Homo sapiens: one gene and its partners. The protein of the gene in region 5 interacts with the protein of the main gene of each other region in a pairwise test. Each region holds a gene or a part of one and is shown on either strand. Other genes may lie near its edges. The genes, in order: TMEM51, CDS1, ELOVL4, LAPTM5, UBE2J1, TLCD4 and GOLT1A.

Region 1 (3,500 bases), on a different chromosome or scaffold from region 5:
TTTGGTGAGGGAAAATGACTTTATTTTATTTTATTTATTTCTTTTGAGACAGAGTGTCACTCTGTTGCCCAGGCTGGAGTGCAGTGGTGCAATCTTGGCTCACTGCAACCTCTGCCTCCTGGATTCAAGCAATTCTCTTGCCTCAGCCTCCTGAGTAGCTGGGATTACAGGTGCATGCCACCACGCCCGGCCAATTTTTGTATTTTTAATAGAGATAGGGTTTCACCATGTTGGCCAAGCTGGTCTTGAACTCCTGACCTCAAGTGATCCACCTGCCTCAGCCTCTCAAAGTGCTAGGATTACAGGCGTGAGCCACCACACCCAGCAAGAACATGATTTTAAAAAACAAAACAAACACTCAAACTTTCTTAAGTTACCATAAGAGGCCTCACATACAGCTTCCTTAAAACTGCCTGCAATTTGGAGAGAAGCAGTTAGGTACTGGAACTGCCTGTGGGTAATTATTGTTTTCAAACAGTGACAGATGCAAATTCTCTTCTTTTGGGGGAAATTGCCTGTAGCTAAACACCGGCGCCATCACTTTAAACAAATCTCCTGATACATATGGTATGCCAGGCGCTGAGCCCAGGAACGAGGGAGAGTCAGCCCCCGCCCCCCACCCCGATGGAGCTGATCCCCCACGGGAGGCAGCAGGGATTGTACCTTAACAACATGTGAATAAAGATGAGGAAGCACAGCCCGTGAAGGAGGAGGCTTAACCCAAACTTGGAGAGTCAGGAAGGATTTTCAGAAAGAGTGCAGTCTGAGCTGAAATGGGGAGCGGGGAGGGCAGGTGCAGCCGCCACCGCCAAAGGTCTTCCTGGTGGAGGCAACTGCCTGTGCAAAGGCCTCAAGGTGTAAAAGAGCTTCGTTAACACAGGCCAATACTGAGTGTAGAAACGCTGCACTCAGGGCAGATGCTGAAGGCAGAGGTGGAAAAAGTATTTTATATAGTTTCTTCTTAAAAGTCATTTTGGGGGCTGGGCATGGTGGCTCATACCTGTAATCCCAGCACTTTGGGAGGCCAAAGCAGGTGGATTGCTTGAGGTCAGGAGTTCACGACTAGCCTGGCCAACATGGTGAAACCCCATCTCTACTAAAAATAGAAAAATTACCCGGTATGGTGGCAGGTGCCTGTAATCCCAGCTACTCAGGAGGCTGACCACAGGAATCGCTTGAACCTGGAAAGCAGAGGTTGCAGTGAGCCGAGATCGTGCCACTGAACTCCAGCCTGGGCAACAGAGTGAGACTCATCTCAAAAAAACAAAAGTCATTTTTCTCAAAAAATTAAAATCGAATAACCATAGGATCCAGCAGTTTCACTTCTGGGTGCATACTTGTCTTAGTCCATTTGTGTTGCTGTAAAGAAATACCTGAGATTGGGTAATTTATAAAGAAAAGAGATTTATTGGCCGGGCGCAGTGGCTCACGCCGGTAATCCCAGCACTTTGGGAAACCGAGGCAGGCAGATCACGAGATCGAGACCATCCTGGCCAACATGGTGAAACCCAGTCTTTACTAAAAATACAAAAATTAGCCAGGCATGGTGGCGGGCACCTGTAGTCCCAGCTACTCAGGAGGCTGAGGCAGAAGAATGGCTTGAACCCGGGAGGCGGAGGTTGCAGTGAGCCGAGATGGAGCCACTGCACTCCAGCCTAGCGACAGAGCAAGACTCCATCTCAAAAAAAGAGAGAAAGAGGTTTATTTAGCCCATGGCATCTCAGATGCATCAGCATCTGCTTCTAGTGAGGGCCTCGGGCAGAAGGACAGCAGGCGTCATGTGGTGAGAGAGAAGAGGAGAGAAGGAGTGGGGAGCAGACTCTTTAACAACCAGATCTTTGGGCACCAAGCCATTCAAGAGGGATCCACTCCCAACAACCAAACACCCACTAGGCCCCACCTCCAACATTGGGGATCAAATTTCTCTTCTTTTTTTGAGACAGTCTTACTCTGTTGCCCAGACTGGAGTGCAGTGGCACAATCTTGGCTCACTGCAAACTCTGCCTCCTGGGTTCATGCGATTCTCATGCCTCAGCTTCCCAAGTAGCTGGGATTACAGGCATGTGCCACCATGTCCAGCTAATTTTTGTATTTTTAGTAGAGATGGGGTTTCACCATGTTGGCCAAGCTGGTCTTGAACTCCTGGCCTCGAGTGATCCACATGCCTCGGCCTCCCAAATTGCTGGGATTACAGGCATGGCCACCGCATCCAGCCTGGGGATCAAATTTCAACATGAGATTTGGAGAGGACCAATATCCAAACTATATCAATGCTCAAAAGAATTGAAAACAGGTTTTTGAAGAGATATTTGTACACCCATGTTTATATGAGCATTACTCATAATAGCTAAAATATGAAAACAACCCAAGTATCCATCAAAGGATGAATGAATAAACAAAATGTGGTCTATCCATACAGTGGAATATTATTCAGCCTCCATGTGGAAGGAAATTCTGACACCATGCTGCAACATGGACGAACCTTGAGGACATCATGCTAAGTGAAATAAGCCAGTCACAAAAAGACAGATACTATATGATTCTACTTGTATGAGGAATCTAGACATCATAGAAATGGAAAGTAGAATGTTGGTTGCCAGGGGCTGGGGGAAGAGGAATGGGGAGTTAGGGTTTAATGGGTAAGGGGTTTCAGTTTTGTAAAATGAAAGCGTTCTGTGAATGCATGATGGTGATGGTTGCACAGCAGTATGAATGTACTTAATGCCACTGAACTGTTCATGGAAAAATGGTTAAGATAGTCAACTTTATGTTATGTGCATTTTATCACACTAAAAAGTTGGTGGGTGGGGGAGTCATTTTGGAAACAAGACTCAGATAGTCATTTGGCCATATCATTGCGTTCTCTCTACAGACCAGGTGTTCTTCCAGGCTTTGGGGGGAAACGGTGCCTAAGACAGGCTCAGTTCCTGCCCTCTTGGAGCTTACACCTTATTAGGCAGCAGGGAGGAGTCAGTCAAGTAGGAAACCAACAAGTAAAATAACAAATCAATAACATGTCAAATGCACTGATCTGAAATCTTTGCCCCTTCCCTATGCTGGCAGGATCAAGCCAAAGCTAAGCTCTTTAACTTTCAACACTATAAAGCCCGGACTTCTTAGAGTCAGCCTCTGTTAATCTTTTCAGACCTATTACTGCTGCCTTACCCCAACTTCAACTGCATCAGTCACAAGGAACTACTTTCCACCCCCACCTACCTCGTACCCCTGCTCAAAGCCAGGAACTTTGGCGGCTTTTTTCCTTCCTGTTCTTTCTGCTTTTCTTTCTAGACTGCCCAGAGGCTTTAGAAAACACCATAATTTCAATTCTAGAAGTTTATCCTAAGAAAACAGTTAATGAGTATAAGGAGTTAGTTTCGAGACTGTTATTTTTTGTAATAATAGCAACAAAATTAGAAAGCCATTTTGTTTTTAATCTGTCCAGAGATGGTCCTAGCCACGACCCTTTAAATAAATTTTTGTTTAATTTTGGAATAATTTTA
Region 2 (3,500 bases), on a different chromosome or scaffold from region 5:
TGCAATGCCCACAGTTGAGAAATCAAATCTCCTCAAGTTTCAAATCCTATACCATCCACATTAATTGGGTCTTCAATGTGGTCCAGGACCATGACAAATACTATCTTTTTTTAAGTTGTTCAAATGTAGGTAAAACAATTACAAGTTAACCATCTTGCTCAAGACTCTAATTCCAGGGGCCACCATTCACTTTAATATTGTAGATTACCATTGACGGAAAAAGTTAACTTACTCAAACTAATGTTGATGGAAATGAGAACTCAAAGAAATCATCTAAAAAATGTCTCAAGTGTAAAAGTACCTTATAAAACTTGTGATGTACACATGTACAAAAGTTGCCATCAAATACTGACAATCAAATCTGTCCATTATCCCACCATGTCCAGGAATGGTATTTGCAAAATCCTTTAGAAACAAACAAATATATTAGCAAATTTTCAAAAAATCACCTGCTATAAAATTCCTATCTGTGTCTCTTTGGCGTCATGGACTCACTCTAACGAAAATACATTACTATTGGATTTTTTTCACTAAATAAAAACTTATTAGAACACATCCAGCAGATTAAAACCACATCTTCCAAATACATGCTTCTTTTAGAATGATTTCTGAATTGACCCACAGCATTCATTCATCAAACGTTAATTAAATCTAGCACTTACTTTTTTTCGTTAATAAAACTTTTTCTAAATAAAAATTATCTTAGCTATTACTAATCTAATTTTGTTACAGCCTAGCTTTCTTTTTAACCACAAGCTGTTTGGGGAGCTATTTTAGTGCTGCTAAAAGATGTACAACTGGTTCTAACTTGTTTATCCTAATAGTTCTTACTCTGAAATAAACATTTTACTACTATGATAAACATTTCTTCTTCTTTTTTTAAGTGTTAGAGTAAAAAATAAAATTACAGTGAGCCCATATGGGACACATTAGTCCATTAAATGGCCACACTGAGGGAATGGTAGTAAGCCTCTGCAAACTGACCCTTTACAGGTAGATTCACATGTCTGGGTGCCCAGGAAATGGACATGACTAACTGCTCTTCTAGTTCACTCAGGCACCCTAAAAATATCTAAACTACAACAGCAATAGCTGTTTGGTTTCCAACATGCAAAAAAAACTCACCATTTAACAAAAAATCTTGGATTGGAGACCATTAAAGAAAATACCATTCTAAATATAACATTTTTCTTTTTAAAATAATTACTGAAAAAGTCTTTGGTTAATTTTTGCCAACCCATTTCTCTCTTTCTCTTCCTTACTAGTCAAAGCATAAAAGAGCCACAGTAACTCAATGCCACTCTGCTATTACAGCCTTCGCAAGATACTTATCCTGCACAGCTGTTGCTGTAGTTCTCTGGGGAAGTGTATTGTCTGCCCTAGTAGGTGGTGAGCATCTTTAGAACAGGAACAACATCTTGTATATTTTTGTATACTGCATTGCACCTTACATAGTAGCTTCCCACTGGCAAATGCTCGCTGAGTTCACTTATTCCCTGACCCCGTAGGCCGCGTGTGATCTGGTCCCACCAAACTCTGCGGTCTCATCTCCTACTCTCAACCACAGCCACACTGTTCTTGCTCACCTTCTAACAGGCTAATTAACCTCTTCCACTCCTCTGTACACTCTGGAACTCTCTTCTTAGTTTTCTCTGGAGGAGTTCTTTTCTCAAATCTCTACTTAAGTGCCACCTCCTCAGAAAGGCTTTCCCTGACCACCCCAACTTCCATAGCCACTTTCTAACCCCAGATGGTGCCTCAGCCATGTGAGGGAAGCTGAGATGAAATTGCTGAGATAACATGTCACTTTATGATGATCTAACCTAATACACAGGGATAATTTTAGGTCTCTGGAACAGGGGTCAGAAAAGTATGTCCCACAGATCAGATCCAGGCCACAACCTATTTTTATAAATAAAGTTTTATTAAATCCAGCCATGCCCATTCATTGACATATTGTCCACGGGGGGCTTTCTCACTGTAACAGCAGGGTTCAGGGTTGAGAAGCTTTGATAGAATATATGGTCTGCACATCCTAATAAATGTATTGTTTGCCCTTTACAGAAAGAGTGTGATGACACCTGACTTAGCAGAATGGACAGTTACATAGCCAAAGGTTCTTCTGCATGTCCCTTCAAGTGAGACTGTAGTAAAACACTAAACTTTAGATGATTCACGGCTGGATTCTTGGGTGAGCACTTGAAAGACCAAGATTCTGGGTCTATTCCAACACTAAAGGACACATGCCATGTCTATAAAGGAAGCTGACATGACACTTAAAATGTATTAACATGGTATGACAAACCTAAAAAGAAAGAATACATTCAGATCAACGTGGCAGCATTTCTGTGGGGTCGAAACAAATAGGATATAAAAGTTGTGGCCTAGGGGCTTAATGTAGATCATGAGCGGACCAAATTCCAACTAGGTTACATTCTCTAATTATATTCTCTAATAATATAACAAAGAATCTAAACACACACCTTGATTTTGAAGGCTCTTTTGAATCCACTAGCAAAGAAGCCTCCAAATGGGCCAATTAAAGATGCAAAGGTTGACAGTGCAATGCTGTGGATCTGGAAAGGGTACAAGCTCACTCTTTCCTAAAGAGGAGAAAGAAGGGGAGGAGAGGGGCTAATTTCACTGAAATTGTATTTGAGCATACCACCTGATCTAAGAACCATTGTGTAAATAGTAAGTCAAAGCACGCACCACATTTTTGTTAATTTTTCAAACTTTAAGGATCAAGGAAGAAAAGTCTATTTAAGCCTTCTGTACCATCCTCTACTTAGCCAGCAATTTCCCTTCTCTCTGTAAGAATAATGACAGGCAACTGGCACACTGAAATCTTGCAGCGTGGTAGTCTACCTTCCAGGTTGTCTAGGAACTTTACTTCTTACAAAGAATCAGCTGTGTTATTTTCCAAATTTTTTTAAACTAGTAATGCTTTGTTGCTGTAATTATATAATTTAATATTGTATTTTATTTCACCTTAATTTTATATGATAAAATAAGGGAAAAGTTGGACTTTTCTCTAAAATTAAGATGAATGCTGTGGAAAAACACAAAAATAAGTTGCTTAAAGATTATTATCAAAATGAGCATCAGTGAGACAATCACTAAAGATTTGGGGAGACAATCATAAAGGCTGAGAAGAATTTTGTAGTCAAATTATTTTGCAAATTTGTAGTTCTTGCTCCTTTTTAAATAATCTGAAACTACAATTTATAGACAGTGCAAAATGCACCCATTTTGGTTGAAGAAAGATGTCTGAGGCACCAATTTTTTTTTTTTTTTTTTGAGGCAGAGTTTCACTCTTGTTGCCCAGGCTAGAGTGCAATGGTGCAATCTCGGCTCACCGCAACCTCCGCCTCCCAGGTTCAAGTGATTCTCCTGCCTCAGCTTCCCAAAGTAGCTGGAATTACAGGTGTATGCCACCACGACTGGCTAATTTTTTATGTTTAGTAGACATGGGTTTCACCTTTTGGTCAGGCTGGTCT
Region 3 (3,500 bases), 9.4 Mb from region 5:
GGCAATAGTTATCAGAAGAAAATTTTTCATAGCCAATACATCTGAGTAGTCTCTCATTTTCTCTCAGTCACCTTCTAGGTTTTATTTCCTCCTTAGTCATTTGTTTACATGGCTGCTGTCTGCCTTCTCACCCTCACTAAAATGCCAGCCCCACAAAGGCAGGGCTTTTCACCCCTGTCCCCAGTACCAACATATAGTAGATGCTCAATACATATTTAATGAATAAATAAAACCAACATGACAACCAAGACAGGTGATTTTTCATCAGTCCATAAGTCTTCTAATAGGGAAATGAAGATACGTACATAAAATTGTTAAGTACATTAAACCAATTTTGTCTCCAGTCTTGATGAATACTGATATTTATATATTGTCCACTCCCCATGCCAGGAAACTATTTTTCTCAAGGGAAGCCACTAGATATTATTACTACATATACTATAGGTAACATAAAACATGTTATGTTTTATATGTAATTTCTAGTATGAACCACAGTATATAAGAAGAGTTCAATAAATACGTAATAGAATAAGGTAATCTGTTGTTTCTTTTGCTTAATGTTAATTTTACTCATGTAAGTGAATGGAAAATAAAATATAACATCTTGTTACTAGTGTTTTATTTTTCTGCAAATATAAAAAAACTGAGTTTATGCCAATACAAATTGTTCTATGCCTAATTTCCTAAATATTCCACACTTCACAAAACATTTACTTTTCCTCACTTTCTTAACACATAACTTGGACTCTAAGAGTTTCTACTCTTGAGCAAAAACAAACAAACAAAAATCTAAAATAATGTCTTTAAAATAAACATGAGACTTCTTTGCTTTAACAAGTACTGCATTCTAGTAATTCAATGCATATTCACTCATGCTGCAAAATAAAAAACATTTTTGAGATACAAAAACAAATTTTAAATTAAGTACTTTTTAAAAAAGCATAGTTTTACTGACTCATAACAATCTAGTATAATTTCACTATCATATTAAAGTACATTTTGCCAGGTGTGGTGGCTCACACCTGTAATCTCAGCACTTTGGGAGGCTGAGGCAAGAGGATCCCTTGCGGCTGGGAGTTCAAGACCAGACTGGGCAACATAGCAAGACCCTGTCTCTACAAAAAGTAAAAAAATATCTAGGCATGGTGGGGTACACCCGTAGTCCCAGCTACTTGGGAGGCTGAGGCAGAAGGATCAATTGAGCCCAGGAGTTTGAGGCTGCAGTGAGCTATGATCATACCACTGCACTTCAGTCTGGGGGACAGAGCAAGAAACTGTCTCTAAATGAATGTTAAAGAAACTGTCTCTTAAAAAAAAGTACATTCTATATTTTCACAGACTGGGGCCTATAAAAATCAAACCACTTTTACTGATTAAGAGTATTTTTAATGTACTTACCCTGACTTCATGAACATTATTAGAATAATCCACACTCTGGCAAATATAGCTATATCCCGCATTATATGATCCCATGAATAACTGGAAAAAGAGTAATAATATTTGTAGTAAAGTTTTAGTAAACACAGCATTAAAAACACAATTATATACAAAATGTAGCCTTTCAAATTATTTTAAACACAATATTTTCTTTAAAAATTTCAAATGCATTAAAAATTTCATGCATTCCGATTGCTAGAAGTTACTGTGCATTAATTTGTTCTATAATTAAAATCTAAATTAAAAATCACATGTAAATTTTATACTGAACATTGACTCTATCTATTAAATACTTCACAGTATTAAGAGAAATTTTTATTGCTAGGACTCAGATTTCAAAGTTGTCCTACCTTAACTGGTTTCTATGTTTGATCCAGAGTGGTTTGCATCTAACAAATTAGGTACAGGTATCCAAATAAATTAAAGTGTTCATGAAGTTGAGACTCGAGGCTAAGTTTTCAAGTAAAGAAATATTTCTTTTTCTAAGAAGAGTTATTGTTTATTTTCCTAGCATTACTAGTCAGTTCTCTGGCTTCATACAGAATTTTAATGAGTCTCTTAGGAAACAAATTCTTTATACATATGCAATTTAAAAAATGGCTGTGTCAATCTAGCCTTTAGGATTTCCTTTGAAAATGTTGTGGAGAATTTGCTAGTGCCCAGAAAAGTATATAATGATTAGTAACAACAGCTATATGGCAGTTAATTCATTTTAATTCCAGCCCAAAATACAACATTATGTAATAGGATTTACTTGAAATTGGCATATTTTGATCAGTTACCAAACCAGAAACTACTGAATAAGAATTATAAATAAATAGCTGCTACTGTTTACTGAGTGCTTAATACGTGCCAAACACTATGCAAAAATTATCTTACTTTACTCCGATAATAACCTGAGATGGTAGGTATTTAAGTGGGGAAAACGAGGCTAAGAAAAGTTAAATAACTTTCAATGCCAGAACAGCTAATAAGGGTTACTTTAGAATCCAGTTGGTCTTATTCAAAATTCCACTTTAAACAACTTTCCTATACCTCATGTTTAATATTTTTGTTATTCAAAAGTGAAAAATGTCAAAAATGTACTTTTAGAGTAGCTAACAGTTATGTCTGGGTAAAATATTACAATGATGGTTTTACACATTCTCATTTTTAAATTTCCAATAACCTTGGAAAATTATTAAAGTGATCTTAAAAACATACCTCTCTGAAGATAAAGAGGTTAAGCAAAACCATCCCAAAATTATAGATAATGAGCACTAGACGCATCTGAAAAGGTTCTCGGTCCTTCATCCATTTTGGACCCAGCCACACAAACAGGAGATAAAGAGTGCTTATACTTAGTGTAGGCCAAGGAGACTGCATCAGAGGCCAATTTTCCACACGCTTATCTATAGAGAGAACAAAATACCATAAAATTCATTAATCAGTAAATGTTTTATAAAATACACTTTTTAGGAATCAAGATGTTTCAACTTAATTTCCTAATTTGACTAAATACGGATCACTGTCCTTTGAGTCCCAACAAAAAATACATGGTATAAAAACCAAAGAAACAATACTGACTCCTGCAAGTGGCTTTTGAAAATTATGCTTCATTACTTATGTCACACATTATGTTTTACAGAGACCCTACAGAACAAAAACAAGAAATAAAGCGCACTAAAAACAGAGGTGGTTATCTTGGGATGAAAAGTTAATGAAAAACTTCATACACAGAAAATAAATATGTTAAGGAAACATTTGTCTTCCATATTATACACGTGAAATTTATCAGGGCAGCTTGGAGGCTGCTCTGTGTGTCCACTCCTAAAGCAGGCAAGAATGTAACTGGAGAGGTACGTACGGGGCGATGGTAGCCATTTGCTGAAATATCTCGAGACACTGAAGACAAGAGTACAGGGGCACTGAGAGATTAAGTTAGGGTTAATTACAATTCTATAATGTAAACAGTCACCATATTCAAGACATTTTTCTAACTTTTTCATTGAGAACATGCACCTATTTTATTCCCATGAATAACTAACTTGAATGTTTTTCTCTAGAGCTGTAAATCGCATAAC
Region 4 (3,500 bases), on a different chromosome or scaffold from region 5:
CCCCAGGCAGCATGGGTTCCAAGACAGAGTGAGTGTTAGCAAGGGGAGTGGGTGCTGGCATTTGAGGCAGGGTGGACGCATTCCAAACCAGCACCAAATCATCGCCCCACTCCTCCGGCCCTGCAAGGGCCAGGCCCCTGTCTGCACAGGAAGGACCCTCTTTCTGGATCCTACTCCCATGGCTATGTGGTGAGGCCCTGGCTTCCTGCCTTTCTGGGGACCCAGGGACCGCGGGTTCCTCTTCTGCAGGGGATTGAGCTACAGCCCATCTCAACTCTCCCACCAGATTTGCCTCGGGCCCAGGAGCCCCTCGTTGTCACACTAGACTGTCCCTGTCTCTCTGAAGGCCCATCTTCCCCAATCAGATCATGAGCTCTCTGGGGGCCTTCCAGGGCGTAGGTCCCCCTCAGGGTGCTGGCTCCTGTCACTGCATGGATAGAGCTGCATGCATCCTACTTTCCCCCTTCTTCGGCTCCTCTCATCCATTACAAAATCCAGTGCTTTCTCCCGTCTCTCACCCCCAGAAACAACACTTCCTCTTTTCACTCTCAAAATTCCCTGCTTCCACCTGCCGTTTAAAAGGATGTGAGTCATCAGCTAGTTCTCACCAAAGTGTCGGTGACCAGCATAGCCCACCATGCCCGGCCCCGTGGAGGCTCATGTTACCAGGGAACTGAGGTCACCTGCCCAGGGAATCTCAGGGAGAAACATGGTTCTCCAAAAGGTATGTGTGAAGATCTCCAGAACGCAGGTGGGACCGCCTAACATACCCGCCTCCCACCCTCTCAGCACCCAGCACTGCCCACCACCAGTGGGTGTGAATAACAGGAAGGGGCAGGGGGCAGCGGGGCTCCTGAGCCCTCACCTTGACTACGCCGATCAGTAGGCTCAGGCTGATGATGAAGAGCATGGTGATGAGCAGGAAGCTGGAGATCAGGTCAGCTGAAAGGCAAGGAGAGCAGGGAGGTGCTCAGGGGTGCCCCTGGGACCCCAGCCAGGCTCCCAGGACCACACTTGGGGAACCACTGGTTTGGGGACATGAGGATGCACAGGAAAGCCCAGGCCCTGCCCTCTTGCAGTCCTGAGTCTGGAGTGAGTACAAAGACAAAAGCAGAACATCACACATAGCACAGGAGGATGCGACAGAGGGTGCTGGGCTGGAGGTGCAGGCTGGGGTCCACTTCAGCCAGGGTGAGGCTGAGGAAGGCATCCCTGGGGAGTGGCCTGAGAGCAATGAGGAATCGGCCTGAGACAGGGACAGGGTTGGTGAGGTCAGTGTGGCTGGAGCAAGGTGTGGGGTGGAGAATCGCAGGGAGATGCTGTCAGAGAGGTGGGCAGAGGCTGGATCCTATGGTGAGGAGTTTCCATTTTATTCTAGTGTGATGAGCAGCCACTGACGGCTTTAAGCAGAAGAGTGAGGCTATCACCTTTACCAGCTGGTGGGGATTTGCAAAGTGCCATTCCATCTGCTCTCACCACCTGCAGATGTGGGTGGGGTCAGGTGGAACATCCCCATTTGCGGATGAAACAGCTGAGGCCCCAAGAAAGGAAGACACTTGCCAGAGGTCATCCATCGTCCATGGAGAGGTGGCAGTGCCTCCAACACTAGCCTGGCTATCCCTGGCCAGGGCCCTCCCTGTCCTCCTCCCCCCGCCACTCCACCGGCGTCCCCTGGACCTACCGATCCTGAGGTAGCCCATCTGGGAGAGCTTGCAGGACGCCTTGCCATGGGCCACCTCTACTGAGTGCTCGATGAACAACAAGACGCTCATGATCTGGAGGCAAAGCAAAGCATCAGTCAGCTGAGCCTGCATCACGGCCCCCCGACCAGCCCCTCCCACCTTAGTGGTGTACAGCAGGGAAGCCAGTAGTGGGGATCCTGGAGCAGATGGCATGCCAGGTCAGTAGGGCATCTCAGACAAAAGAGTGGCCTTTACACACAGAGAGCCCATGTTCAGAATCCTGGGTCTTCCTCTCTCCAGCTATGTGACCCTGGGCAAGCTACTTGACTTCTATGTGCCTCGGTTTTCCCATCTGCAAGATGGGGATAATACTAGTAACTTCCTTAGGAGGCTACTGTGAGGAGTAAATGAGACTATCCCAGGAGAGCCCTTAGGCCCAGTTCTCAGGAAGAGTGGTAACTGTTACTACTGAAGGTCAGGCTTAAAGAGGTGGGGTGGGGGGTAGAAGCTGAAGGCCCCTCCACTGCATCCCCTTCTGTAACAACAAGCTCTGGGGATCAGAGAGCACCATAGAGCTTCAGGTTCCCGGAATCATCAACACAGGCCCAGGAGGGCCCTGGAGAGCATCTAACCCTGAATCTCTGTCTCCCATGGCCCCTCAGGGAACAATAACATCTTCCTCATAGGATTGTGGTGGGGCCAGATGGGATAATTCACTTAAAGTACCTGGCAGATAGTAAGCACTCAATCTGTGCTGTTATCCATTATCCCCATTCGACTGTAGGTTCCAGGCAGGGAAAGCCTGTATGTCTCTTTGTTCATTCCCCTAGCTGTTGTATTTGTTGAATGAATGAATGAATGAATGAATGAACAAATGAACCCCACACTCTCAGATGACCCTTGCTAAGAATGATGTGGAAGGGGCGAATCTGATAGGCCTGAGTGTTGGGGTGGCCCTAGAAACAACTGAAGTTCAGCCACAAAACTGCAGTTTTAAAGAACCTTGGAGGTCACCTTATCCATGCCTCCCATAAACCTGTGCCATGCAGCCTCTACTTAAGTGCTTCCAGCCATGGGGAACTCACAACCTTATGTGTGTCCATGTCCTCACAGCAAGCCCTCCACCCTTCCCCTATGACATACATACAGTTCTCCAGGTAACCTCTGCCCATATAAAGAACAAGAAAACTGTCCCCTCCCCTCTAGTCGGTGCCCTATCTCTATTAATATGGCCCTAAGTTTACATCGGCTTTCTAGGCAGCCCTGCACTGGTAACTCATGCTCAGCTGACAGGCAACCAGCCACCCACCATCTGTTTCCCCCTTGCTGACTGTGTGGGTTTTTTTTTTTTTTTTTTTTTTAGCTCAGACACAGGTCTCAACTTGTCTTCCTGCCACATTACATCCTGTTTAGGGGCGTGGAAAGGGACTGAACGGAAGAGTGATGAAGAGCTGGGCTCCAGAATCAGATCAAGAGGATTTTGAATCCAGGTCACTGTGTGACCTTGGGCAAGTCTCTTAACCTCTCTGAGTTTCCTCATCTGGAAAATTGCAATCACTGGATTTAGTGAAGATTAAATTGCATTATATTTGCAAAGCACTGAGCTCAGGGACTGGCAGGGGGTGCCCAGCAAACAGAATCTGCTTTTGGCTGGGGCAAGCTTACGTGGTTCGGCAGTAGTACCAGGAGCACGGTGCATGCTCTAACTGCCCCCTCTACCTGCTAAAGAGTGAGCTGGAAAGGCTTTGTCTCATCAGGAAAGTTGAGAACACCCCAAAAAGAAGGCAGGTGTGGTGAGGGCTGTGGCTGACACTCACA
Region 5 (3,500 bases):
ATACTGTCCTTGAGATCACATATAACAAACCTATTTTAAGGCTGTGAAAAAAGTCCTTTAACAAGATCAAATTATCTGTTAGCAGAAATATATATAAAGCAGTAAAGAAACTAATTAAACATAGAATTTACAGATATTTCTAGGGAAAAAAAAACCCCTCACAAATAGCAGTATAACTTGAAAGACTTGGGAGAACTTGCAGAAAATCCAAAGACTTAATTTATTGCTGATTATACATTAGGTAGAGACTCAGGATATGTCTGTTAACTAGATTATTTTCTAAAATATATTTGTTTTTCCATTTTTCCCTTTGTATTCCAGATATAGTCAAAACTTCCTTGAAGTTTACAAGAGTCCTCTGAGGATATGAATGACTGAAAGTAAACATGCATCATATATAAAACATATATTGTTACACTGTTAAACTTCCTTCTAAAAAATTGTTTTTCATAGTACTTCTAGTTCTATTAAAAAACCTTAGGTCTTGAAGAACATGCTATTTAAAATTATGAAATATCATATAAACAAAATATATGTAAAAGTAGCAATAATTTAGTTTTTCTGTTTGTTTGTTTGTTTGTTTGAGACAGGGTCTCCTCGTTCTATCACCCAGGCTGGAATGCAGTGGTGCAATCATGGCTTGCTGCAGCCTCAACCTCCCAGACCCCAGTGATCTTCCCACTTCAGCCTCCCAAGTAGCTAGGACCACAGGTGTGTGCCACCACACCCCGCTAATTTTTATTTTATTTTATTTTTTTTTTTTATTTCATTTTATTATTATTTTTTTTTTTGTAGAGACAGTGTCTCCCTGTGTTATCCAGATTGGTCCAGAACTCCTAGGCTCAAGCGATCCTCCTGCCTCAGCTTCCCAAAGTCCTGGGATTACAAGCATGAGCCACTGTGCCCAGCCTAATTTAGTATTTATTGATGAGTATTTCTTGTTTTACCAGAAGTGGCACTGTTGACCACACACCTTTGAGAATTGGTTATATACAAATTATTTGCTTCAAAATGTATTCACTTTTAACTGAGTCAGATGAACCTTAAGGGGAGTGTTTATTTTGAATGTATTAGTTTATCCACAATGGTAGCATGCTACCACGGTTGAATGCAAAAATCTTTGTTTTTTTTTTTTGAGACAAGGTCTCAACTCTGTCCCACAGGCTTGAGTGCAGTGGCACAATCATGGCTCACTGCAGTCTCAACCTCCCCAGGTCAAGCAATCCTTCCACCTCAGTCTCTAAGTAGCTGAGACTACAGGCACGTGCCACCACGCCCAGCTAATTTTTGTATTTTTTTGTAGAGCTGCAGTTTCGCCATTTTACCCAGGCTGGTCTCGAACTCCTGAACTCAAGCAATCCACCTGTCTTGGCCTGCCAAAGAGCTGGGATTACAAGTGTGAGCCACCATGCCCGGCCCAAAATCATTTTTTAAAAGGTTTCTATTATAGACTGAGAATCTAGAATATACAGTGAGAAGCCTAGAAGAACAAGAACTCCAGTTCTTTTTTTTTTTTTTTTACCTCGCACATGAAATCAACTGGATAAAGGCATCAAGATAAAAAAACCAACGTAGTAAATCGAATGAAAACAAATACTATGTATTCAAAGTACATAGTGTAATCTATGAAGAGCTGTATAAATAAAGTACATACCCATAGTTTGGAAATAAGGTTTAAAAAGAAAAGTTGCTTATAAGACCAAGAAGTCTACCAAATCTTCCAGATGCTAAAATCTAACTGATTTAGCAAATATCTGTAGAGGGCCTACTCTGGGGTGTGCTAGGGTAAAATATGATATAATTTAATTAACATAATATGTCTGAAGGGTGGTAGGCAGCAGACTCCAGAGCAGAAAAATTATCAACATCAAAAATTAGGTATCAGCACTACTCAAAGAGGGGCTACTCTGAATGGAAGGACTGATCTTGGTCATATAGACAAAAGTGCACCTGCACCTGAAAAAAACAGAGAAGGCATCACTTCTCTGTTTGTGATTGCCACTGGGCAATCACAACTTGATAAAATCTCTTTTGCTTTATTCCAGATCATTTATTAAGCACTTGCTATGAGCTAGATGCAAAGATGGATAAAGTGGATTACCTCTTGGCCCTCAAGAGGTTTGTAATCTTGTGGAAAGCTACAAATAATTGCTCTGGTTCTTTTCCATCTATAATGCCATAGTGGAAACAAATGACTGGTATTGTTTTCCAGGAGAATATATCTCCCACTGAATTTTTTAAAAATAGTGAAATAGTATCAACTACTTTTTAAGACTAGATAGCATTAAATAAATTACTTAGATTCTGGTCACTCCAAGGAAATTATTACAACTGAATTCCTAAAAGAGCAAAACTGAGATAAGATCCTGTAGCTACAGTCACTCAGAAAATAAGTCACATAGTAAGAGGTAGGCCCTACCTCCTAATAGCCATTACCCTGAATACTATTCAGACCTCAAGAAGAATGAAATGCAAAACTTACTTTTTGGCAAGTGCTCTTCTTTCCTCAGGAGTGTAATCTAGAGAACCTATGGCTCCCTCTCCTTTTGTTGGCATAAACCCAATGATGGCTAATAATGCTGTCCTTACTGAAATAAAAAAGTAAATATCAATCTAAATTGCTTTGTAAAAGCAACTGGGTTTATTCTGGAAAAAGAAAAAATCAGAGTATTATACTTCATAACTATGAATTGACTGAAGTTATGAGATTTATATTCACTATAAATTAACACTTACTACTCCACGAAGGCTGCCAAGTTTCAGGATGATGGCCTGAGATGCTCAAACAGATTTTCTTGCCCACTTCAAATCGACCATTAGCCTGAGGAATAAACAATGCATTTAGAAAATTAAATACATGTGCTTAATGTTTATACTTTCTGTAAAAATATACTATTTATATATAATAATTTTAGAGATTATCTTAAAAAGTTTGTTTTTTTTTTTTTTTTTTTTTTTTTTGAGATGGAGTCTCGCTCTGTCACCCAGGCTGGAGTGCAGTGGTGTGATATCAGCTCACTGCAAGATCCACCTCCCGGGTTCACGCCATTCTCCTGCCTCAGCCTCCCAAGTAGCTGGAACTACAGGCGCCTGCCACCAGGCCTGGCTAATGTTTTGTATTTTTAGTAGAGACGGGGTTTCACCGTGTTAGCCAGGATGGTCTCGATATCCTGACCTTGTGATCTGCCCACCTTGGCCTCCCAAAGTGCTGGGATTACAGGCATGAGCCACCGCGCCCGGCCAAAAAGATTTTTTTTTAAATGTAACCTCTCATGGGACACAGATTTTTTGTCCTTATAGACTCCAAAAATACTTGTTGGATGCTGAATAATAAAAGCTGTTTTTAGAAGGTGTTTTACAGCACCTTTTGAAACTGAGTTGCACAAGTGAAATCTAAATAATTAACATGTAAAGTTTTACTGGCCAGCGAAGTGGCTCACGCCTGTAATCCTAGCACTCTGGGAGACTGAGGCAGGAGGATCACTTGAGGCCAGGAGTTC
Region 6 (3,500 bases), on a different chromosome or scaffold from region 5:
GCTTTCCTACCCCCCTCTAGTTAACCAGTACATATTTAAGCACCTATGATGTGGACAGCACTAAATTTAGCAACAAATTATCAGTGTAATATTAGCTGCTTTAAAAATAACTATTATTTTACATTAATTCTTTCAAAAATAAATGTACCTAGTATAAGCCAATCAATCTCATTTTATCATTTAGTTACTGACTGAGATTTCAATCTTCTTTAAATGTTCTAAAACTTATCAGGCTCTATCTGCATTGAATAATAAAAGCAAATCAAATCAAAAGTCTTGATTATATTCAGCTAGCATGAACAATGAAAGTGAGTCAAACGTTCTCCTTCAAACTGAGAAACTGGATTACATCTTTTGGTATGAGTTCAATTAATTTCAAGTATTCATCACTGGTAGAATTAAATTTCTTCCTTTCTCAGGTAAGAATAATCATTAAACTCAAGTGCTTAAAGAATAAAGGCAATAATAGATAAATATATAATTCTATATTTGGATTGCAAGAATTAAAGTAAAAGCAAAACACATACACACACAACCAGAGTCGCCAGTCATTTATCTTCATATAATCAGACAATAATTTTGATGATAGAATACTTGGATTAAATTACCTTTTTTTTTCTGTGCTTTAAGATAGAAATTCAAAGCACTAAAATGCCAACTAAGTAAGCACGGGTATGAATTGTGAGTAAAATATGAATACTGATATTTTTGTAATAGTTTGGGTCTCATCAAGAAGAGGCCTATTTCAGGAGCATAATAAATACATATTGCATAAGACTTTGGTACTGATGGTGCTGGGTTCAGAACTCAGGGAAGATTTTGCAAACAGAAAATATTTTTCACAGAAAAAGTGCAAGGAAAGCAGATAGGGATAAACAGTGTTAAAACTTTCTTTCTTAATGATTCCTCCGATTAGCCTAAATAGTCCTCTATCAACATGCATTTTTAGAAGAAGAAACTCATCTCTTAAGGAGGTCTATAATCTGTCTTAAGCCTTATTATAAAATAAAAAAGCAATAATTTGATAAAATGCTAAAATAGAAATGACAGTGATATTTGAAAAAATCTTAAAATGTGGGAAGTATTCTCCATGACTAAACTAATTAAATATTCCCAAAGTGGTAAAATATTTCATCATTAATAGGTGATTGCATGTCTGAAATGAAAAATGTTGTTACTTCTGAATAGCCTGAGAAAAAGAACATGCCAACAATTTAGAAATTAAACCCTACACAAGTGTTGACAGCCATAGTAAGAAAAGAGTGCATACAACAAATGTTAAGAGCTATTTACAGATTTAAAAGCAGTTCCCATTCTTGCAGCAAAATTGGTGACATAAAACCATTTGTACCAGATTATCATAGTCATCTTTCACAGAGAAAAAATACCAATGCAGTTAAGAGATTTCTCAAAAGATTCACCATTATATTGATCATTTTTATTTAAACCTTTAAGATTTTTATCCATGCTTGTAAATAAGGCAAAAGAAAGGCAGAAAAGACATCTTGGGATGAAAACTAAATTTTAATTTTAGTTTCTCTCTTTTTTTTTTTTTTGAGACAGAGTCTTGCTCTGTCGCCCAGGCTGGAGTGCAGTGGCACAATATCAGCTCACTGCAACCTCCGTCTCTCGGGTTCAAGCGATTCTCCTGCCTCAGCCTCCCGAGTAGCTGGGATTACAGGCGCCAACCACCACGCCCAGCTACTTTTTTTTGTATTTTTAGTAGAGATGAGGTTTCACCATGTTGGCCAAGCTAGTCTCGAACTCCTGACCTCAGTGATCGACCCACCTTGGCCTCCCAAAGTGCTGGGATTACAGGCATGAGCCACCGTGCCCGGCCTTCTCTTTTCTAAGGTTTAAAAAAAATGACACTGAAATCCTGAATAACAATTATAATTAAGAAAGGTACACAAGAACATGCCAAGAATTCATCCTATCAGCAGATATGCTGGGTAGTAATGAAGTTTGCTTATCGGTAGCACTCTTTTAATCAAGTTTTCCATTCTGAAGACTATTTTTGGCTTTCTCTTGTCTGATGTGAGAGATGACTTTGATGCAACCTTTTGAAATTTTGATCATCCACATGACATTCATCACATCCAAAACAACACAACTAATGACCCAGGATAACTGGATTAAAACTCCAAGCCTTATGTAGGGTTCTGTTCCATACACGGAATACATGAAGCCATAATGAGGAAGCATTGAGGCAATCCGCACGATGAAGAATACTACTGTCATGAGTATTCCATTGATAACGATAGCTTTAGAAAACTTGGGATACTTCAGAGCTTCAAAGAACCACCTGAAAAATGAATTAAAGAAACATCACATTTATAGTGCATCTCTGAGGATTAACCATTTTTATTTTAGTTTTTAAATTTTAAAATTCAGTGAAGGAGGAGCAAAGGGCCTAGAATAGCATACGCAATGCTGAAAAAGAACAAAGTTGGAGGACTCACACTACCCATTTCCAAGACTTAACTATAAAGCGACAGTAATCAAGTCAGCATGGTGTTAGTGAAAGATCAATAAACCAATGGAAGAGAAAAGAGAGCTCAGAAATAGACCCACACAAATATACTCAACTGATTTGTGACAAAAGCATAAAGGTAATTCAGTGGAGAAAAAAAGTCTTTTCAACAAGGTGTGCAAAATTGTATATCAACATCGAGAAAAATGAAGTTAAGCAGAGATCTCACACCTTACACAAAAATTAACTCAAAATGGATCATAGACCTAAATGTAAAATGCAAAACTATAAAACTTCCATAAGAAAAAAGGAAAAAAACCTGTATGATCTTGCATCTGGTGGTGCTATTTTAGATACAACACCAAAAGTGTCATCCATGGAAGAAAAAGTTAGTTAAGTTGGACTTCGTTAAAATTAAAACTTGCTCTGCGAAAGACACTGTTAAAGAAAAGACAACCACACACTAGGAAAAAATATTTAAAATATACATGTATGGTAAAGTACATGTATACAAAGTACACAAAGAATTCTTAAAAGTCAACAATAAGAAAACAACCCAATTAAAACACTGGTAAAAGAGCATAACAAAAACCTCATCAGAAAATATATATAGATGAAAACTAAGCATATAAAAAGATGTTCACTATTGTCATTAGGAAGTGCAAATTGCAGTGGCTCACGCCTGTAATCCCAGCACTTTGGGAGGCTGAGGCAGGTGGATCACCTGAGGTCAGGGGTTTGAAACCAGCCTGGCCAGCCAGGCGCAGTGGCTCACCCCTGTAATCCCAGCACTTTGGGAGGCTGAGGAGCGTGGATCATCAGGTCAGGAGTTCAAGACCAGCCTGGCCAAGATAGTGAAACCCCGTCTCTACTAAAAATACAAAAATTAGCCAGGCATGGCGGCGGGCACCTGTAATCCCAGCTACTCAGAGGCTGAGGCAGAGAATTGCTTGAACCCAGGAGGCAGAGGTTGCAATGAGCCGAGATCACACCACCACACTCCAGCCTGGGCGACAGAGCAAGATTC
Region 7 (3,163 bases), on a different chromosome or scaffold from region 5:
ATATGTTTATCAAAATGTCAAAAATGTAGCCCTTGACCAAACGAGGGGGCCTTCATGTCCTGCACTTCTAGGCTACGCTTGCTGGCTCTGAGTGAACTCCTGCAGCTTCAAAGAATGCCCTGAGACACTTACAAACCTTGGGAATGGGGGCTTACTGTCAAACCTTGGGAATGGGGGCTCACTGTCAAACCTTGGGAATGGGGGCTCATTGTCAGTGTGGGTCCAACCTCGGCAGAACTGCCCAAAGCCACTGGGCTGAAATGAGAGTTGGCCGAAGAGTGTGTGGGGGGCCCGCAAGGTGCCTGCTGCAGGAGGGAGGGAGGACAATGGGAGCAGGTGCAGGCTTGGGTCTTGGATATAGGTCCCAGCTGAGAAGAGGAATGCATTCCTAACTGATGACTTCTGTTTTCCCAATCCAGTGGGAAATGTCACCACCTGAGAGTGGAGACAGGGCAATTCTGAGGAGGAAGGAGGCAGTGTGGAGAGTTGCTCAGGCGGGCCAGCCTCTTGAGTAAGGACCAGGAGAGCTGGGTGGTTCTGAGGCTCTTTGGAGCTGGTGGTCCTGAGTTTTCAGTGGCTCCCTTCTGCGCAGTGTGGGCTGGGCTCCAGTGGTTCTCAGTTGCACAAGGCAGGAGCAGAGGCAGCAGATGCTATGTTCAGCCTTGATACTGATGTGGATAATGTGGCTTTTGAGGACAAGAGGAGGCTGAGAGTATAAAGTGGTCAGGGCAGCACCAGCTTCCACACAGGGCTGCAGTGAGGACAGCATGCCACTGTGTACAGAAGTGACAGCACAGTTCCCAGGTGCCAGACAAAGCTTCATGCCATCCTACCTTCCCCTTCCCATCCCACCATCCCCTGAGAGCATGAAAGCTGAGATTCCTGGATGGAAGTGGAGTCACCCCCATAGAGGGCACCTGTCCTGTGGCAATGGGGGAAGTTTCAGGGTCCCCACCTGCTCCCCAAAGCCCTTTCCTCCACCACCTCCTTGCCCATTGCAGAGATTGGTGTGGGGATCACCGGTTTCGGCATCTTCTTCATCCTCTTTGGAACACTCCTGTACTTTGATTCCGTGCTCCTGGCCTTTGGAAACGTGAGTCTCCCAGCCCTGTGTCCCCACTCCCCTGCCCCAACCTTTCTGAAGTCTCTATTGCCAGGATAGTCCTGGCAATAAAGACTTACAGTTTATTTAAGTCTTTAAATAAATCCCTTAAGTAAATCCCAAGTTTATTCAGACCATGCCTATCCAGGGGTCAGACATCATCAAGCCTGGGCAGAGGAGGGCACAGGAAATGGACGCAGAGCCCGCTGGCACCAAGAATCTGAGGACCTGGATTCTCACACCGAGCTCTGGGCGAGACCCTGGGGGTTCTAAGAGGACTCAGACACTGTCCCTGCCATCTGAATCCCACTCTAGGGCTAGAGATATAACATGACATACATGGCTGGGAGGAAGGCAGGGGCCATGGTAAACACATTTAGTATGAAACAAGGGGCTTAGTGGAAAGAGGGCACACTGAATTGGAGAATGGTGGAGAGGAATTTGGAAAGGAAATGGGTGTGGAGGTGAATAAAGCACTTCCAGGGGGATTGGAACAGCAGGAGAAAAGGTGTGGGGAAGGAGCAGGGAAGCATGGGATATGCTGGAAGAAAACCAGAGAGTTCAATTTGATGAGAGCCTGGGCACTCTTAAGGGATTCATTAGGAGCCAAGCTGAAGACGGTGATAGGGCATCCAGGGGAGGGACTGGAGGGTTATTCTGTAGGCAGTGGAGCCTCTGAAGGTTCTGTGTGACTTTCAGTATGGCTGCCTAACCTACTTAGGCCTCAATCTTCACTTCTTTGGAATAAAAATCCCTCCCGATTCCATCTTCCCCAGATGGTATGGTGAGAAACCAAGTCCCATATGAAAAATGCTTGGGCTCCAGGGAATTGGGTAGGCAACTAGAAACCGTCAAAGGTTTCTCATCCATCCCCCTGCCTCTGCGCAGTCCTGTTCCCAGCCAGCAAGACTTATCAAGGCTCTGGGATTCTGCCACACTGCTGGATGGCCCTCGCTCAGATGGTCTTGAACAGTTAGCACATCCTGTCCCAGCCCACCGCCTGGCTCCAGGCCTAAGTCCCTCACTCCTCAGGGGGCTGGTGGGTTTGCTTCATGCTCCCCTCCCTCCCCTACAGCTGCTGTTCCTGACGGGCCTGTCCCTCATCATTGGCCTGAGGAAGACCTTTTGGTTCTTCTTCCAACGGCACAAACTCAAGGGAACCAGCTTCCTCCTGGGGGGTGTGGTTATCGTGCTCCTACGCTGGCCCCTCCTCGGCATGTTCCTGGAAACCTACGGATTCTTCAGCCTCTTTAAGTGAGTGCAAATCCCTATAACCCTGGACAGACCCACCAAAGTGTCTGAGTGGCTGAGATCACCCCAGCAGGGAGTGCAGAAGCTGGGACTTTATCCTGCAAGAGATGAGAACCATGGACACCTTGGAAAGGCCCCCTAAAGTAGGCTGAAGGGTACTTTGGAGGGATTAGCCCATCCATCAACAAATACTGATAGAGTGCCGACTGTGTTCCCAGCACTGTGCCCCCAGCACTGTGCCTGTGAGCAGGGAAGAGACACGAGGCCTGCCCTCAAATCTCAGTGATCCAGCCGGAGAGGAAGGGCAGTGAGCTAACATGTTCCAGGCACACTCATGATCATCATCTTATTTTATCACAACAACCCACTATAGGATTATCCTCTACTTCATAGATAAGGAAACCAACACTCAGAGAAGTTGCCCCCGGCCCAAAGTCTCAAACTAGTATGTGAAAAAGGTCGCCCTTAACCCAGGGAGCTCTGGCTCCTGACCCCTGTGTCATCCCCTGGCCAGGCCTGTGTCAGCCCTGGGCCTGGGAAAAGGCAGGGTGGAACTCAGCCATGATGTGTGGCCACTGTCAGGCCTGTAGGCACTTAGAGGGGAGCCCAGGGTAGTGTCATAGAGGAAGCAGGACTTGAGAGAAGCCTTGAGGGATGGGTAGGGTCTAAGAGAAGACTGGAGGGCACTGAAGGAAAAGGAAGGAAGGAGTCTCAGAGAAAGTGGGGGTGGGAAGGAAGACTTCATATGTCTACACGGTGGTGTGGAGAGAATAGGGGTGGGATTGGGACAATGGACCCTGGAAGAATGAT

Evidence for each region.
Region 1: the proteins of UBE2J1 (region 5) and TMEM51 interact in binary tests that used the Homo sapiens proteins (3 or more experiments, as listed by UniProt).
Region 2: the proteins of UBE2J1 (region 5) and CDS1 interact in binary tests that used the Homo sapiens proteins (3 or more experiments, as listed by UniProt).
Region 3: the proteins of UBE2J1 (region 5) and ELOVL4 interact in binary tests that used the Homo sapiens proteins (3 or more experiments, as listed by UniProt).
Region 4: the proteins of UBE2J1 (region 5) and LAPTM5 interact in binary tests that used the Homo sapiens proteins (3 or more experiments, as listed by UniProt).
Region 6: the proteins of UBE2J1 (region 5) and TLCD4 interact in binary tests that used the Homo sapiens proteins (3 or more experiments, as listed by UniProt).
Region 7: the proteins of UBE2J1 (region 5) and GOLT1A interact in binary tests that used the Homo sapiens proteins (3 or more experiments, as listed by UniProt).

The regions. Positions count from the first base shown.
Region 1 is NC_000001.11:15,160,247-15,163,746, forward strand, and holds part of TMEM51 (transmembrane protein 51), read left to right. Parts: intron 1-3,500.
Region 2 is NC_000004.12:84,642,127-84,645,626, reverse strand, and holds part of CDS1 (phosphatidate cytidylyltransferase 1), read right to left. Parts: intron 2,604-3,500; coding exon 2,484-2,603; intron 406-2,483; coding exon 302-405; intron 1-301. UniProt on the Homo sapiens protein: Catalyzes the conversion of phosphatidic acid (PA) to CDP-diacylglycerol (CDP-DAG), an essential intermediate in the synthesis of phosphatidylglycerol, cardiolipin and phosphatidylinositol.
Region 3 is NC_000006.12:79,923,554-79,927,053, forward strand, and holds part of ELOVL4 (very long chain fatty acid elongase 4), read right to left. Parts: intron 2,829-3,500; coding exon 2,641-2,828; intron 1,480-2,640; coding exon 1,399-1,479; intron 1-1,398. UniProt on the Homo sapiens protein: Catalyzes the first and rate-limiting reaction of the four reactions that constitute the long-chain fatty acids elongation cycle.
Region 4 is NC_000001.11:30,740,775-30,744,274, forward strand, and holds part of LAPTM5 (lysosomal-associated transmembrane protein 5), read right to left. Parts: exon of another isoform or gene 3,016-3,500; intron 1,776-3,015; coding exon 1,682-1,775; intron 943-1,681; coding exon 866-942; intron 1-865. UniProt on the Homo sapiens protein: May have a special functional role during embryogenesis and in adult hematopoietic cells.
Region 5 is NC_000006.12:89,335,723-89,339,222, forward strand, and holds part of UBE2J1 (ubiquitin-conjugating enzyme E2 J1), read right to left. Parts: intron 2,822-3,500; coding exon 2,737-2,821; intron 2,589-2,736; coding exon 2,483-2,588; intron 1-2,482. UniProt on the Homo sapiens protein: Catalyzes the covalent attachment of ubiquitin to other proteins. Functions in the selective degradation of misfolded membrane proteins from the endoplasmic reticulum (ERAD) and is essential for cells to recover from ER stress.
Region 6 is NC_000001.11:95,190,355-95,193,854, reverse strand, and holds part of TLCD4 (TLC domain-containing protein 4), read right to left. Parts: intron 2,306-3,500; coding exon 1,987-2,305; 3' UTR 1-1,986.
Region 7 is NC_000001.11:204,200,826-204,203,988, reverse strand, and holds part of GOLT1A (vesicle transport protein GOT1A), read left to right. Parts: intron 1-1,001; coding exon 1,002-1,093; intron 1,094-2,177; coding exon 2,178-2,356; intron 2,357-3,163. UniProt on the Homo sapiens protein: May be involved in fusion of ER-derived transport vesicles with the Golgi complex.